Linked DNA regions of Homo sapiens: region 1 is linked to region 2. Evidence: fine-mapped expression QTL. A gene starts in region 2. The other region holds a variant in brackets. All regions are shown on one strand. Distances are from middle to middle.

Region 1 (8,876 bases), 150 kb before region 2:
GTATTACAGGCTTTCACCTTCCCTAACAGTTGATCTGATTGTATCAACCTATGTTTGGGATATTAAGACCCTTTGAAGATAAGAATACTTTTTCATTCTTCTTTTTTTTTTTAAATAGAGATGGGGTCTTTCCATATTGCCCAGGCTGGCCTTGAACTCCTGGGTTCAAGCAATCCTCTCACACAGCTGGGACTACAAGCATGTGTCACTGTGTCTGGCAATGTCTCATTCTTTACCTACTATGTTTCTAATCAAATTTAAATCTTTGATACACTTTTTTTTTTTTTTTTTGAGATGGACTTTTACTCTGTCACCCAGGCTGCAGTGCGGTGGCACGATCTCGGCTCACTGCAACCTCCACCTTCTGGGTTCAAGTGATTCTCATGCCTCAGCCTCCTGGTAGCTGGGATTACAGGCACACACCACAATGACCTGCTAATTTTTATATTTTTAGTAGAGACAGCATTTCACCATGTTGGCCAGGCTGGTCTCGAACTCCTGACCTCAAGTGATTCACCCACCTTGGCCTCCCAAAGTGCTGGGATTATAGGCATGAGCCAGTGTGCCTGGCTACTCTTTGACTATATGCTTTTTACAATAAAATTGTGACACCCCACTCCCCACAAATAGAGAATGGGATATTCTGGTTAAATTTTTAGAAAATTGAGTCATATTCAGAAATATTTTATACAGTTTCACTGAAAAGTAAAACTGGAAAGAATATTTCAGATTATCATATTTGTAAGCTCCATATATCTAGATGAGAAAATTGCAAGGTACAAGAAAGAATATTTGAGATTATCATATTTGTAAGCTCCACATATCTAGATGAGAAAATTGCAAGGTACAGGAAGGCAAAATCACTTGCATTCAGGTTTCAAGAATCTCAGGAAATGGTAATGATTTAATAATTTTTAAAAAGCCTTTTCATTAAGAATGAACATTCTGAAATTGCATTTAAATTCTGGCTATGCCACTCATTAGCTGTGTAATGTTGCTCAAGATGCTTTAGTGAGTCTCATTTTTCCATAAATACAACAGAGATAAAAGTACTTACCTCACAGGTTTTAGAGAGGGTTCAATGAGACAATGTGTGTAAATTGAAACATAGCAGGAAATTCAATAAATCTACTCCCTACCCAACCCCTACGGTTCAATGCTCTCGTAACTCTTGCAGGTAGCCACTCTAATTTGTTAAAGCTTTTTAAAATATATTAGTTAGCTTTCCAGTACTAGTAAGTAAATTTATTTTTTTTTTTTTAGATGGAGTCTCACTCTGTAGCCAGGCTGGAGTGCAGTGGCTTGATCTCGGCTCACTGCAACCTCCACCTCCTGGGTTCAAGCAATTCTCCTGCCTCAGCCTCCCAAGTAGCTGGGAGTACAGGTGTGTGCCACCATGCCCAGCTAATTTTTGTATTTTTAGTAGAGACGGGGTTTCACCATGTTGGCCAGGACGGTCTCAATCTCTTGACCTTGTGATCCACCTGCCTTGGCCTCCCAAAGTGCTGGGATTACAGGCGTGAGCCACCACGCCTGGCTAGTAAGTAAATATTAATTTATTTTTAAATATTTGATATTATAAAATACCTAAAAGCAGTAAGATTGATCATTAACTATAATAGATGTAGAAGGAGCAGATTAATTGAATGAATATGTATAAGCCTCATATCATACTCTGGACATTGCATTTTGGATGATTATTTGATAATGATTTTCTTACAATTTTATCTTTCTCCTATTGTTGGAGGTTCCAGCTGATACTTTATAATACTCTACAAATCAAAGGTCACTTGTAAGCTATACTTGTTTGGGGAAAAAAAGCTCATACAATTTATTGAACTAATAACTTTTTTGTTTTCTCTGTTTGTATAATTGCCTATTCTGGATCCAAGGTGGCATAGAGGAAGGTCTAATGAAAATGATCAAAGGTCTGACAAGTGACTCTACCTTTAATGATAAAAAGATGGTTCCTTGATGGGCAGAACATACAGTACACCAGAATGAAAGCAGGAACTGACGGCTCCACTTCCTGCAGTTAGAGGTAACTAATGAGTCACTTGAGTATTGCGACAAGGGACCAATGCCAAATTGAAATAGCTTCACATTGCCTTTTAGGGGGATTCATAGCATTTTCATAGCTATAACAACAAATAAAGCCTACAGAGTGCTTTAGGGCTTGCAAATTGTTTTCAGCAATAGGAAAACTCATCGGATAAGAAGTTCTTCATGAACTAAAAAAAATGACAAAGATGATTATTTTGCTCAACTAGCAATTTATTCCAAAAAGATAAAGTGCCCTTTCTATGTACTCCCATAGGACGTACATGAACTTTCATGTATTGCATTTCTCCTAGCACAGCACTTACCACAATGAATGTAACTATCTGTCTACTTACCGGTATTCTCTATAAACTATAGGCTCATAAAGGGAGAAGCTGTGATTCTTATTCACCCTTATATCTGCAGGCACAAATCCTAGGCACTCAATCAAGTGCTGAATCAATATATCTGAAGTAGCCTATTCTATCTTCACTGTCTATACTTGTTTGAATACTCACTAAATATGGCAAACATAAACCAAGTCTAAAGTTAAAATGATTTTTAAGGGCAAAAAGAGCTGGGAAGAAGAGGGAAGGTGGAAAGCTGGGGAGGTGGACAGCAGTCAGGATGCAAACTCTGGCTTCCGTTTCACCAACCTTGTTCAAAACAGTCACATGTCTTTATTCTTTTTTAGAAGCCCATCCAGGAAAAGGAATAATAATGGAACTTTTCCAGTGTCCCCTTTAAAGAAGAATAGATAAACCGTGTTTCAGATGCTCAACACAACCCCAACACAACCACACACCTGCGTACATGTACATGTGGGTGCATATGCACACACACCATGTACACACACCACTAGAGGGGGCCAGTCACTCTTATACTCTAGATTGTAGGCTCAAGGTGAATAAACCATATAGCTATCTAGCTGCATTATCATCTCAAACCAGTTTATCTGAGCTGAGCTGTCTTCTCTATAGTGTTTTCTATTTACAGCAATCCCTCCTTCCTGGGACAAGTTCATGCTATCTTTTAATACTAAAGAAGACTAGGTTGTACAAGGCTTTCTCCACTTAGAACATAGGGTTCTAAAACCTTGCTTACTGGTTAGACACCGAATTCAAGTTTCTTTAAGACAGAAAAATATTAGAGTGAGATTAACCACTTAAATATAAGTTATGCAATTTTCCGCAAGAAACGAGTATCTTTCTCTGACGACCAGAACATGAGTTAAGTGGCTCCCTGGTGTTTACCTCCTCTTAATAATTAAACACCAATATACAGTCCATTTTGTAATGGATTGGTTTTGTAATCTGCCCACCCCAATTGTGGTACCTTAGTAGATTCTACCCCTAACTTTCCTACCTTGTCTGGAACCAGGGTCTTTTAAGGTAATCCTCCTTTTCCATTTGAGAGAGAACTGCCTAATTCCAACAGGCATTAAGGCAAGGGAGGGAAAGAGACTGTTAAAAGAGGGGTAGCTCACCTTATGCCAGAGGGAGGGATGAAAGCAGGAAAGGAGGGGAAAAAGAGTATAAGCAGTCGGCCTTTTACAATAATGGCTATAGCAGCGGCAAGACTGGTAAATAAGAGCTTAGCCTCACCTGGGCCTTAATCCCAGAGTTGCCATTAACAATGTATTTCTTCTTGCTGCCCAGCATAGTGACATTACCAGCCCCACTGCCACCTCTGTGGTCCAGGGACCCTTGTGATCAGGCCTTTAAACTTTCCTCATCAGCAATTCTGTTGGCTCTGGTTCCAGCCAGCTTTTTGGGCTGGGGAGTGGGGGACTACTCTTCCTTGGAATCCCTGAAGCAGCTCCAACAACCCCTTCAGCAGTACAGCCCCAATTTAATAAGGCATTTCTGTTAGTGGCTCAACAGCCATTCCTAATTCTAGTGGCTGTTTTGCTTTTACTTGTTTTTTTCCTAAACACCTAATTACATGGATCCTCTGACCTCTAAACCTTGCAAGTCCCTTGACAAGGCCCAACTTGCATGCGCATAACAATAGCTTATTTATATAACCACTGCACTTTTTTGCTCGCTATAATTAACTTGCTAATTAGGTTCCTTTTCAACCTTACCTCCTCCTTTTCCATGTCAGATGATTTTAGTTAACCTAGTCTCATTAGAAAAAAATTAACCACAGAGCCACTTAAACAATGAGAGACTTCATTAAAGGAGTAAGAAAAAAAAATTAATGGTGCCAAGTACTCAGGCAGGCCCTACCCTACACTCTGTGTCCTTGGATTAGCCAGACTGGGGACACTGATTTCAGCTCTGTCACCAAGGAAATCAATTTTCTCAGTTCACTGCTTTCCTCTGAATTGTGCATCTTTTATACAGGTTTTGACATTTGGTTTCTAGTCCCAGCTCAAGATTGTTGCTGATTTGGCACAGAGTGACCCAGTTTGCTTTTTTCACAAAATGTGTGTTCATGGAAGGGACGACTACAAAGGGAAGTTTCTTATCTCCTCAGAGTCCCCCGAATCACAACAATCTTACTACGTGCCAAATATTCAAGCAAAAGGGCAAAGAATCACATTATTTATTTGCTGATTTCTGAAAGAGACATAGTGAGGAAGAAAGCTACACTCAACTGTCTGCTACAGAGATTGGGGGGAAAGTGATGTCAATTCTTCCTTAATTAAAAAAAAAAAAAAGACTGCTTGTTGAGCACAAGAAAGGACATAAAATGGCAGATTTTTTTTTTTTTTTTTTGAGATGGAGTTTTGCTCTTTTTGCCCAGGCTGGAGTGCAATGATGCGATCTCGGCTCACTGCAACCTCCACCCTCCGGGTTCAAGTGATTGTCCTACCTCAGACTCCCAAGTAGCTGGGATTACAGGCATGTGCCACCACGCGGGCTAATTTTTTGTATTTTTAGTAAACATGGGGTTTCACCATTTTGGTCAGCTGGTCTTGAACTCCAGACCTCAAGTGATCCACCTGCCTCGGCCTCCCAAAGTGCTAGGATTACAGGCATGAGCCAC[T/C]GTACCCAGCCGGCAGATTTTTTTTTTTTTTTAAGGATAATCTTTATTTAGAGAGAGAAGGTCACATTGCATACTGCTTATTGACATCTCTGGAAGAGAAAAGTTTGGTAAGTGCCTATTTTCACAGTTCTGTGTATATGTTACTTCTATTAATTTGTACAAGAATCTTAAGAATTAGGCAGTATTATTCTCACTTGACAAAGCAGGAAAGTTTAACTCTAAGAGAACAAATGATTTGTCCAAGGTCTCACAGCAAGTAAGTGATGGGACTGGAATTTGAGCCTGTGTTTATGCTAGAGCCAAAGCTCCATCTACTATACCATGCCTCATAATATTAATCAGAAGACCAAAGGTCCTAGTCCTAGGTGTACTAGCCTCAAATCATTCCTTTTATCTTTAAATTTATTTAATTTAAAATTACTCTTTAAATTCATTTTCGTATCAGATTACATCTTAGAAATGACATCATCCCGGATAATCTTGGGGCCCTGATCAAGTCACAATTCTAAAACACCTAATTATATAAGAATTAGAACTCTAACAGCTCTTTAAGGCAACTTTGCCCAATGTCACTACCAGAAATGGAAACAGAAATTAATTGAACTCAAATATGAATATTCACCATCACCCACAGCAATTCTGATCTCTTACTCATAATTTCACAAAGTGAGACAGATCATTTGCTTGCTTGATGAATCTCTCAACTTTTGCTCCTCCTAACAAGAATGTTCACCCCAGTCCGCATGTACTAAGCTGGTTCCCCTTTCCCTCACTCAGGTAAAAAGGAGCTCCTTGGTCCAATGACTTAAGTCAGATAACTTGAGCCAGAAGGACTGGCATATCTATACCAAATAGAACCAGAAGACATTTTAGGAGACAGGAAAAGCCTTACCACTTAACAAGTTTTGTCTGTTTGTTTGTTTTGGTTTTTTTTTTTGAGACTGAGTCTTGGTCTGTCACCCAGGCTGGAGTGCAGTGGCGCGATCTCGGCTCACTGCAACCTCCACCTCCCGGGGTCAAGTGATTCTCCTGCCTCAGTCTCCCGAGTAGCTGGGACTACAGGCGCATGCCACCACGCCTGGCTAGTTTTTTTGCTTTTTTGTTTTGTTTTGTTTTTTTTAGTAGAGACAGGGTTTCTACTAAAAAAAAACTTAAAAAGTTCCATCACTTACTTCGTGTTAGCCAGGCTGGTCTCGATCTCCTGACCTCGTGATCCGCCCACCTCGGCCTCCCAAAGTGCTGGGATTACAGGCGTGAGCCGCCGCACACAGCCAATAAGTTTTTATAGAACACAGTAACTTTCAAATTTTAGCTGCATCAAAATCACCTGGAGAGCTTATTAAAGCACATTGCTGGATCTTAACCACCAGAGTTTTTGAATTATTAGGTCTGGAGAGGGCCCAAGATTTTGTATTTTGTAATTTAAAAAAAAAAATTTTTTTCAGCTTCCAATTCTCTGGTTGAAGATTTTGTGTTTTGAGTAACTCCCCGGGAGACGCTGATGCTACCAGTCTGAAGACCACACTTTGGAAACCACTGCTCTAACACTTTCTCCAAGCGTGAGTAAAGCAGCCCTGATTCTCTTGACTCTACTTAACCAACCATTCTATCCTATCATGGCTATAACCATGGAGGCACGTTCACAGGCAGAAAAGTAAAGGTTATTTGAAAGGTCAGAGAATACAATGAGGTGATCCTTTCTTTTCTTTCTTTTTTTTGGGGGGATGGTGTTTTGCTCTTGTCTCCCAGGCTGGGGTGCAATGGTGCCATCTCGGCTCACTGCAACCTCCACCTCTCAGAGTTCAAGTGATTCTCTTGCCTCAGCCTCCTGAGTAGCTGCGATTACAGGAGCACACCAACCATGCCTGGCTTATTTTTTTTTGTACTTTTTAGTAGAGATGGGGTTTCGCCATGTTGGGCAGGCTGGTCTCGAACTCCTGACCTCAGGTGATCCATCCACCTTGGCCTCCCAAAGTGCTGGGATTACAGGCATGAGGCACCACGCCCAGCTGAGGTGATCTTTCTTTACACCCAAAACAGGGTCTAAAGAAAACTGGGTCTAATTCTGCTTTCCGTAACTTAAGGCTCTTAAGAAGAGACAGGTAATATATTAAGAAAAACAGGACTCATGGGGAGGACAGAAGATCTATTTATCCTAAAGAGGATCAAGGCCAAGAGAAACCAATTAATTCCTTTTCAAGTACATAAAGTAATACTACAAAGGATGTATCTGTGTCTCTACTTCCTAAGGTCTGTCATCATTTCTAAAATAGGGATAATCATATCTACTTTGCCTATTTAAAATGTATGCTGAGATAATAAGATGTGAGAGGGTTTTGAAAACTACATATTGATATGCAAGTCTAAAATATTAATATTTCTATTCTTTCAAATTAAGTGTTCTTAACCTATATTCCATGGATGTCTAGAACCCCCTACAACAGTATGCAAAATTTTGTGTTTTTAATATCCTGGGGAGAGAGCCCATAGTTTTCATCAGTTTTTCAAATGGCTTTCTGTTTTAAGCACCAATCCTGACCTAGAGTGATAGTCAAGCTACCTCTACCACCATTTATCAGACACTTTGGAGATTTTTGTCTCTACTTCCAAGTAGATATGGTTCAGATATTCCTCAAAACACCTCTCTCTTCCAAGCCAAATGAGCGGCTTGAACTAACTCTTTACCTATGAAAAGGATTACTTCTTGCCAAAAGAATATCGGGCATCAAGCTGGCTGGATACTCATGAAAGTCAATCAACCAGATTTCCTATGGAAAAGTACAGAGAGCTGGAGTGGGAGGAGGAGGAAATATTAAAATGTTGAAACACAGAAAAAGTTATTGCTGATCTCCATGCATGTCAGTCGAGGTTACTACCAGAAGGGACTAAAGATCTCTCAGGGGAAGTAAAACACATTAATAAAGACAGTCTTTAAAAGGAAGTGTTCCCCAACCTTTCAGCAGTAAAGCTGTCTGAACAGGGCTAAGAAAATCCTTCACATGAAAACAGCTGAGGAGCAGAGGCTCCAGGAGAAGTTTTCCAGTGATTGATGGAACGTAACCTTGAAAGTCTACCTCGTCAGTTCTTGAGATTGGGGTTCTTCAGGCTTCATCCCGGCTTATTTCCCTGCTGGAAATCAGAGATGTGAGTACTGTCAGCTGTTATATGTGGTGTGAGTCCTATTCTCTGAGGGATATGAAGTCCCTTTTTGCTGGTGATTTTTAACAAAAGGGAGATGTTGTAATATACCTTCTCTGCTAAATTTTTCTCCTGAAAGAAGATTTGAGAGACTTCTCATATTTCCTTTGGTGGCAGGGATAGTTTCAGTGGAAATTTCATTACACTAATATGTAAATGGGAACATGAGTAAGACACTCGTTAAAACTTTAAATTGAAACTTTGGCCCAACATGGGAGCTGGAGCAACGGTTTTTTTCTTGGGGATTAAAAGACACTTTAACATTTTACAAGTAAGGTCTGGAAATCCATCGGCAATACACTAGAGGGTGCTCAGAGGTTAGCTTTCTTGGCTAAGTGGCTATCAGTAGCAACCTAATGAAGTACTTTCAGACCAAGTCAGGAGTCAATGACTTACGTGGTATCTGAAAGAAAGCCTCAAAAGTCTTTGGCAAAGAAAAGCTAGCAAATGAGACAATCGTGTTATTGAAGACTAGCTCCTCCCTATTCCTTTTTATTGCTGTTCAAAATACTGAGCAAAGGTATTTTCCTGCTATTTAAGAGAGAATGGCTGAGAAATTCCTAAGTGAGAGTAATACCTTATTAAAAACAGAACAGAGCAGAGCTGTGCTTTTCTAAATTATTATTTTGTTTGTTTGTTTTGAG
Region 2 (8,876 bases):
AACACTAGCTATCTTCGAGGCCTCTTAAAAGAATTAAATAGCCGGGCGCGGTGGCTCATGCCTGTAATCCCAGCACTTTGGGAGGCTGAGGCGGGTGGATCACGAGGTCAGAAGATCGAGACCACCCTGGCTAACTTGGTGAAACCCAGTCTCTACTAAAAATTAAAAAAATCAGCCGGGTGTGGTGGCACACACCTGTAGTCCCAGCTACTCAGGAGGGCAAGACAGGAGAATCGCTTGAACCCAGGAGGCGGAGGTTTCAGTGAGCCGAGATCGCCACTGCACTCCAGCTTGGGTGACAGAGCGAGACTTGGTCTCAAAAAAAAAAAAAAAAAAAAAAAGAATTAAATAAAACAGTATATGTAAAGCTCTAAGTACAATGCCTGGTATACAGTAGGAATATTCTTCCCTTTGCAATTTTCAAAAGCTCTTATCAAAGATTGACTCATAGAGATGGTGAGGCTTAAAGAATAGGGAAAAAGTGTTAGCTGAACAGGAAGAAAGGGTATATTCCTCAGGTACTCCAAATTTATTTATAACTTTTAAAATATGGATAAATTTCTCAGATTATCAGTAAATTACCAGTGTGAAGCTGCATCATTGATCTTGAAATGCTTTTCTGTATAAGATGCTTTTATTCTCCTCTTCTAAATTTACAATTCTTTCAAGTTCTACATTTGTACAATTTTCTCCCATCCTCTTCCTAAAGCTCTAACTCAGACCTGCCTTACTTTGGTCTTGGGATGACCTAAGCCTTAGCCAGACAGACACGCCTTAGAGTTCACTTAGTATTCTAAAAGACCTCTGGGAGAAAGCAAGAACTCAGCATCTAAGAAGTTAGAATCACTGTGGCATAATGAAAAGGACATGGGCTTTGGAGACGGACAGCCCTGGATTTAAGTTCTACCTCTGACACTTTCTAGATGTATAACCTTGGGCAAGGCACTTAACCTCCCAGGATCTCATTTCTGCATCTATAAAATGGAAATAATGCCACCTACATCTCATAGTATGGTTGTGAGGATTACAGAACCCCTATGACAACTCCTGGCACATAAAAGGCTAATGGCTCACATCTGTAATCCCAGCACTTTGGGAGGCCGAGGCAGGCAGGTCACCTGAGGTCGGGAGTTTGAAAGCAGCCTGACCAACATGGAGAAACTTCATCTCTACTGAAAATAGAAAATTAGCCGGGCATGGTGGTGCATGCCTGTAATCCCAGCTACTCAGGAAGCTGAGGCAGGGGAATCGCTTGAACCCGGGAGGCGGAGGTTGCGGTGAGCTGAGATTGCACCATTGCACTCCAGCCTGGGCACCAAGAGTAAAACTCTGTCTCAAAAAAAAAAAAAAAAAAAAAAAGGCTAATTATTGGTAACTATTATTACAGACCAACTGCCAATTGCCTTACTGAACACTTTTCAGAGCAGTACTCTTGTAACAGGCAAAAGGAGTCATACTGCTACCACATTCCCATGTCTTTATCCAAAACATTCCATTTTAGTACTCTATAATTAACCAAATCAAGAGCTTAAACAATTCAGGACAAGAAGTGCTAACATGGCTCAACTCATTCTCTCCTGACAGCAACAAAGCCAGTGGAAGGTGGATATGTTTGCCAAAAGCAATAAAGGGTCTGTTTGAACACGGTCATTACTGATACTGATGTAAGCACAATCTAGTTGAGGTTCTTGGGCTTGCAGCCTTATTGTCAGAAAGTTTTAATATTTCTGAAATAAATCCTCTCCTGCCTTGTTTTCCCTGCTGTGCGCCAACACTCCTATCACTCATTTTCAAGAACACAAGGAAGAAATCCCTTTCAGCTAGTACTACCTCATTCCCTGTGGAACTTACCTTCCCATTTCCCAAATTACTTCTTATAGAGATTTTTGGCTTGCTGGGTTCACTTGATGTCAACTTATGAAAAAGGACACTATAATTAAATATATCATAGCCACATAACATGATCTGGCCCCCAGAGCATCGCAAGTTACAGGACGGAGGCAGGTGCCAAAGATAAGATGTGATTGAGTAACCTGCACACCATATGTTCCTTCTTATTAACTACTGCACTTGGGAATTCTGGCTCTTGTAAAAAGTTTATTCCCCTTGTGTGGCTGAGCAGAGTAACAAAACTAAGAAAACTGATGATATGTGAATGAAGTAAGGAAAACCATCTATGGAAATGTGACTTAAAATAAATGTTTATACATGAAAGTTAAAAAACAAATGCAACAGTCACCAGTTCCACAGCCAAAGGCAGCTATTTCAATACTAGTATTCTCAGTTCCTTCATATGCTATAAGAAAAACAGTAAGGAGTCAAGGTCAAAGTGGTTATTTACATAGACAATCTAAGAATCAACAAAGGCTCAACAAATCAAAATGTCACACTGCAGTTCCTTGGTGAGATGACTTTCAACTTAGGGAAAGGGCAGTCTTGGGCACTTATTTTGATTTAGCCAATTCAATATCAAGAAGGTTAAAGATTGGGCACCTGAAAAGCAGCTCAGCAATGCCCTGAATTTCGTCATCCAGCTGTATCCTTGCCCAGAGCTTCACCTGCTTAACTTTCAGCAGAGAAGTTGTTTTTTTGGTGCAATTAACATTGTAAGGCAAGCTCAGCCCTGCTTTACAATAGCCTTGAGGCTGCTGAGTATATCTACAATCATGGAACATACATTTGGTGCTGAAAAAACAGGAAGATGGTTCAACGACAAGGAAAGTGGTCAAGAAGCACATCTAGAATTAAGAAAAACAGACTCCAGTATGCTGGTCTTTGATTTTTTAACTTTTTTTTTTTTTTTTTTTTTTTTGAGACAAGGTCTCACTCCAGCACCCAGGCTAGAGTGCTCATTGCAGCCTCAACTTCCTGGGCTCAGGTGATCCTCCCACCCCGGCCTCCTGAGTAGCTGGGACTATAGGCACACACCACCATGCCCGGCTCTTTTTTTTTTTTTTTTTTTTGGAGAGAGAGGTTTTCACCATGTTGCCCGGACTGTTCTCAAACTCCTGGACTCGAGCAATCCACCAGCCGTGGTTTCCCAAAGTGCTGGGATTACAGACGTGAGCCATGATTTTTTAATTTCTTTATATAGAATATATTGAACTGTGTGTAACTTTCAGAGGTGGTCATGGGGGCTTGCACTTAAGCCATGATGGGAGGAATAAAATAAAATCAATTATTCATAATAATAAAAGCATTAGTAAGAATATCATTTAAGACTTTATGTGCCAAGCTCAATGCTAAACCTTTTACAAATATTTCTAATCCTCAATCATAATTAGTACTTTCATTTTATAGAAGAGGAAACTGATTTGTGTAATTTGGAAATTACCCAAAAGGTAGTAATGGGGGTACTAGGCTTCAAATCCAGGTCTGCCTGACTGTAAACTTCATGCTCTAAAAGCAATTTGTTAAACACTTTTAGCCTAAAGAAATCTAACCAAATTACAAAGTTTAGACAAAAACAGTCTTTATCACAAGAAAATGACTTAACGATACAAAGTATCTCAACAAGTCAGAAGTATGCTTTGGATTTCCAGACTCAGATCTAGGTACTCCCAGCACTGGTGCTGCTGCTGCCTCTCTTTTTTACTTTACTTTTTTTCTTTAAACCCATTTCTGCAGGATGCTGCCTCTTTCTACTCTAATTCTTCCCAGAGGAGTTTCATACTACAAACGACAAAGACATTGTCTAAAGCATTACAGAAATTCCTTCAGTCTTGCCTCTGACTTATCACCTAAATTTGTATCGTTAGGATGAAAGGATTATCCGCTATACCTTAATCATGACGCTATGACAACAAAAAGTTATGGTGGATCCAAGGTTCCAATTCAGCTGGTCCCACACAGTAAAACCAATGCACACTTCCCGTCTCTTTGTTGCTGTTCTGATAAAGCAATTAAAAACCATTCACAACAATTTAAAAAAAACATTAATCCCTGTGCCCATACTGTGTCTACGAAATTGAAGCTGTAAGCCCTTTTTATATGATCCACACTTCTGTCTTTTCCAATACTTGCCCTGTTTTTCTGTGCTGATTCAGCTTTAAGAGAGAAAGAAAGACAAGCTTTGAGAGAGACAGACAACTATGGATAGACAATGTACGGGTAATACAGGGCTATCATCCACCTAGGCAGTTACTTCTTGGTATTCTGAGACCTCCTCAAAACTGTCTGAAAGAAGCTGACGCCTAAGACCGAAAACCCCACAAAGATCGTCTTTCCCAAAAGTAGCAGCATTTCTTCCTATCACTTTCAGATTATAATAAAGCAATCAATAAGACATTCATTCTCTTCATACACAGCCTAATAATCCTGGTGACCAACTATACCCAGCAGGGAGGACAAAGCTCTTAACACGAAAGAGTGAGGAGAATCTCTCCATTACCCTTTTACATATTCAGGGAAGAGAGAATATCGCAGTCGCTGGAAATGAAGGGCACAGCATCGTGTTGCTGTATGGCCACGGTTGGCCACAGAAAGGCAGAAAGTCATCAACTGTATGGAAACCAGACAACTCTGACGATTTCTATGCAAGGTGACTACACCTTACTCGTTCTCCAAGTATTAAAGATCTTTTCATCCTTATTGCTGTGTGAACTCCCGTGAGCGGTAAGGTTTTTCTATACTATCGAGGTCTCTTCCCCGATAGGCTGGAAAATCACACCCGGGAGCGTGTTGGGGCCGCGGGACGTACTATTAGGTGTCTCTCCTCCCGCTGCCTATTCCAAGTAGTAGGGGAGAGCGCTACCTCCATGTTATTCAGAGCGAAGTACGGCCGTGCCTCCTGGAGTCTCCGCTCCCAGCACGAGGGGCCGGCTGGGGGGCATCTCTGAGAGAGTGGGTTTAAGGGGACAAGGGGTATCTCCGGTCCTGCGATCAGAAAGGAGGGCGTGGAGGGTGGTGCCGCCGTGCCGAGAGGATCTGCAGTTCCCCTCCCCTCCCTTCCTCTCCTAGAGAGGCAGCCCGGCCCCAGTACCTTCTTGACTGTGCGCGGCGCCTCGGTGACGGTGCCGTCGGGGCTGACCAGGGCCTCGCCGCCGTCGCGGTGCCGCTGGTGCTGGTGATGTGGGTCGCTCCGCTTCATGGCCGACGCCTGAGGCACCTTCCCGGCGGCGGGGCTGAGAGCGGCGGCGGGCCCCGAGCCCGGGCCGGGGACCGGGGGCCGCTCCGCGGCGGGAGCTGGAGCCTCAGGGTCTCCACCGCCCGCCGGGGGGGCCATGGCGCCCACGGCGGCCGTGCTCAGTCCTAGTTGCGACTCCGCCTCGGAGGGGCTCAGGTCCTTCAGCTCCACCTCAGGCACCTTGGCGGCAGCCGCGGCTGACACAACCTGCACCGACATCACCGCCTCCGCTGCAACCACCGGCTCAGACTCCAGCTCCTGCTCTTGGTCGGCCCCGCCTCCCACCTCCCTTCCTCTTCCCTCCCCCATGTCCCCACTCCTCCCCTCCATCGCCTCCTCTCCCACCCCCTTTCTCCGCCCGCCAGTCCCGGCCCCTCCAGCCCCGCCCCGCCCCGTCCCGGTCTGGCCTCGCGCGAGGCGCCACGGAACCTGTAGTGCGTTTGCTCCCGGCCGCACGCGGCGAGAAGACCGTGGGACCTCAGGCCCCGACCTACACTGCGCGCCCCATGGGCGGGGCCCGCAGCGTCCCCTGGGAGTTGTAGTCCTTTCAGCCTTTCCTCCACTAAGTGAGATTCAGCCGAGGAGAGGGAGCGCTAGGGCCGGCAGCTAACAGAAAGGAGTGAGGATAGGTGACTCGACGGAGGGGATGAGGAAGAGAAAGTCTCCAGAGGAGTTGTGACTTCCGGGGAGGGAACGCCAAGAAGCCTTAGGGGAGGGGAAGTGGTAGAGGAATGGCTCGTTGTCCTGACAGCGTGAAGTTCCTCCGCGCGTGCCCGTCTGCGATCACGTGAGCGAGTATTTAAAGGAGAAGCGGCGGCTCCAGGCTGGAAGTGGCTTTATTTTTCTTTGTGATATTGAGAACTCAACACCCTTCCAAACTTCAGTGGCTTTGTTTTTAGAAGGGATAAAGTAGGACCTTGCTTGCTGTGGCGCTTTCTGTCACATTCTGGGTTTGGAAGCTAAGATCATTCCTCAAAGAAGTTAGGTATCACTAGATCAAAATTCAAGGCTGAGGAATTACACGTTGCCTTAAACGAGGCCAAATCTTTTCACCTATAATTCTAATAGGGCAATCATCTGAAATTCAGATACATATATCAGCATAGAGGGATATGAATAGTGAATATGAGTAGTTAATTTCCTAAGTGATGGGATTTAAGGTGATTTTTACTTTGTACTTTTCTGTATTATTTTTAAATTTTACATTTAGAGGATGTAAGCAAAAAGACATGCACCGCAGCGTCCTTTTTAATAACAAAAAACTGTCTAAAACTAATGTCCAACAAATAGAGCAATTGTTACAGCCTTTGAAAATCGTTTGCCAGCTGGGCATAGTGGTTGACGTCTGTAATCCCAGCACTTTGGGAGGCCAAGGCCGGCAGATCACTTGAGATCAGGACTTCAAGACCAGCCTGGCCAACATGGTGAAACCCCATCTCTACTAAAAATACAAAAATTAGCCAGGCGTGGTGGCGGGCACCTGAAATCCCAGCTACTTGGGAGGCTGAGGCAGGAGGATCGCTTGAACCTGGGAGGCAGAGGCTGCAGTGAGCCAAGATCATGCCACGGCACTCCAGCCTGGACAACGGAGTGAGATGCCGTCCCAGAAAAAAAGGAAGAAAGAAAGAAAATTGTTTGCCAATACTTTTTAACAACAAGGTTTTCCCTTTTTCATTCTTTACTCTGAAAGCCAAAATGTGAAGAGGAAGCTAAGAAACTCTTGTGTCTGGTACACTTGTGAGCTCTGTGGAAATGGCAGTGCTCAGACGCCTTCCGATACATAGTGTGAGGCACAAATTTGGCGATCAGGAAATGAGAGACTCCAAGGCAGGACAACTTCACGAAGTGAAGATTTCCAAAATCGTAATAGCACAGGAAAGAAGATCAAGGCATTCTGGCTTTCAGAATAAATGCTTATGATAAAAACATTAAGCTAAGAAGCAAGAGACAAAATTGCACATGCCATAAGATTTTATGTAAAGAATACTTTAAAAAGCCTGTAATCCCAGCACTTTGGGAGGCCGAGGCAGGCAGATCACGAGGTGAGGAGATCGAGACCATCCTGACTAACACGGTGAAACCCCGTCTCTACTAAAAATACAAAAATAAGCCGGGCGTGGTGGCGGGCGCCTGTAGTCCCAGCTACTCGGGAGGCTGAGGCAGGAGAATGGCGTGAACCCAGGAGGCAGAGCTTGCAGTGAGCAGAGATCGCCCCACTGCACTCCAGCCTGGGCGACGGAGCAAGACTCCGTCTCGTAAAAAAAAAAAAAAAAAAAAGAATACTTTAAAAAAACAAAATGCAGTTGACTCGCGACAGATTATGGGGGGGGTTCCTCTCTATGCTCAGAGAAACAGGAGCAAAGGGGTTCATACAGTTTACAGCTGTTTCAGAGACTTACAGCCCTAACAACCCAGGCAGCCACTGGACAGCTACTCTTTAGACATCTAGTCTTTGGTGTCACTGTGTTTTGCCTGGCAAGGAGAAGGAAGGAGGCCAGGCATGGTGGCTCACACCTGTAATCCCAACACTTTGGGAGGCCGAGGCGGGTGGATCACTTGAGGTCAGCAGTTCGAGACCAGCCTGGCCAACGTGGTGAAACCCCATCTCTAATAAAAATACAAAAATTAGCCAGGCGTGGTGGCTTCTGCCTGTAGTTCCAGCTACTCAGGAGGCTGAGGCAGGAGAATCCTTTGAACGCAGGAGGTGGAGGTTGCAGTGAGCCGAGATTGCACCACTACACTCCAGCCTGGGCAACAGAGCAAGACTCTGTCTCAAAAAAAAAGAAGGAGAAGGGAGAGAAATCACCTGCCTCGATCTTCTTTCCTGTCCTACTATTTTGGAAATCTGTTCACTCTGTGTGGTTGTCCTGCCTTGAATGGAGGCTCTCATTTCCTGATCTCCAAATTTGTGCCTCACAGTACATGTCGGAAGGCATCTGAGCACTGCCATTTCCACAGAGCTCACAAGACACAAGAGATTCTTAAGTTTTTTCTTCACATTCCGGCTTTCAGAATTTCCTTCCTGTTAAAAAGAAACCAGCCCAGAGCTTCATCCTCCAGCTGTCGGAGCAGAGATTAGCAGCTCTGTAACTGATTTCATTCTTCCCCCTAATGCTCAAGGGAGCTACGGTACAGCCACCTGGCATGTGTTGGAGCTCATAGGCAGCAGCTGCCTACCTGCCACTAGAATTGATTACTGAGAGGATGAATTAATTCTTCAGTGTGATGTGGTTATAAAATATAAGGAGTTAGAGCACTGGAATGAAACTGATACCCTGTTTTATTCCAGTCACCACCACTGATTGGGGCCAACCATCAGGACACATTCTTCAACCTGTTGTCAACTCCATCCCTACATACCTGCTGCTTCTGCCATCCTTGTAGCTGAGGGACACCAGGTACAGTTGAAGATCAAATTACATACTAGAAACAGGGTAATTAAGCACCAGTTTATGAACTATTTAATGAAATATTTGGACTACAGGTCTTCTTCCTTCACCCGGCTCATTCAGCTTCCAGAACGCTGGCAAGCAGGAATGTAACGTCCATGCAGGACATTGGTATAAAAAAGAATTTCTTTTTTTCTTTTTCTTTTTTTTTTTTTGAGATGGAGTCTCGTGCCATCGCCCAGACTAGAGTGCAGTGGCATGATCTCGGCTCACTGCAACCTCTGCCTCCTGGGTTCAAGCAATTCTCCTGCCTCAGCCTCCCGAGTAGCTGGGACTACAGGCACGTGTCACCACACCCGGAT

The links. PIP is the estimated chance that this variant, and not a neighbour inherited with it, causes the effect. A credible set is the group of variants that fine-mapping cannot tell apart.
Region 1: its variant is the best candidate, but not a certain one, in a credible set for the expression of AHCYL2 in whole blood (INTERVAL, PIP 0.76).

What each region holds. Positions count from the first base shown.
Region 1 is chr7:129,370,695-129,379,570 of GRCh38, reverse strand. The region is part of intron 1 of AHCYL2 (adenosylhomocysteinase like 2); the gene reads right to left. It overlaps LOC107986847 (a long non-coding RNA gene), which reads left to right and starts at 1,893. Exons shown (of 3, transcript XR_007060518.1): 1 at 1,893-2,041; 2 at 6,480-8,178. RefSeq lists enhancers at 3,197-3,756, 3,757-4,317. The variant T/C (reference allele first, on the strand shown) is at 5,035.
Region 2 is chr7:129,221,545-129,230,420 of GRCh38, reverse strand. It overlaps AHCYL2 (adenosylhomocysteinase like 2), which reads right to left and starts at 5,391. Exons shown (of 17, transcript NM_015328.4): 1 at 4,982-5,391. The coding sequence starts at 5,344. RefSeq lists silencers at 5,058-5,307, 5,428-5,497, 8,119-8,413 and an enhancer at 5,778-5,887.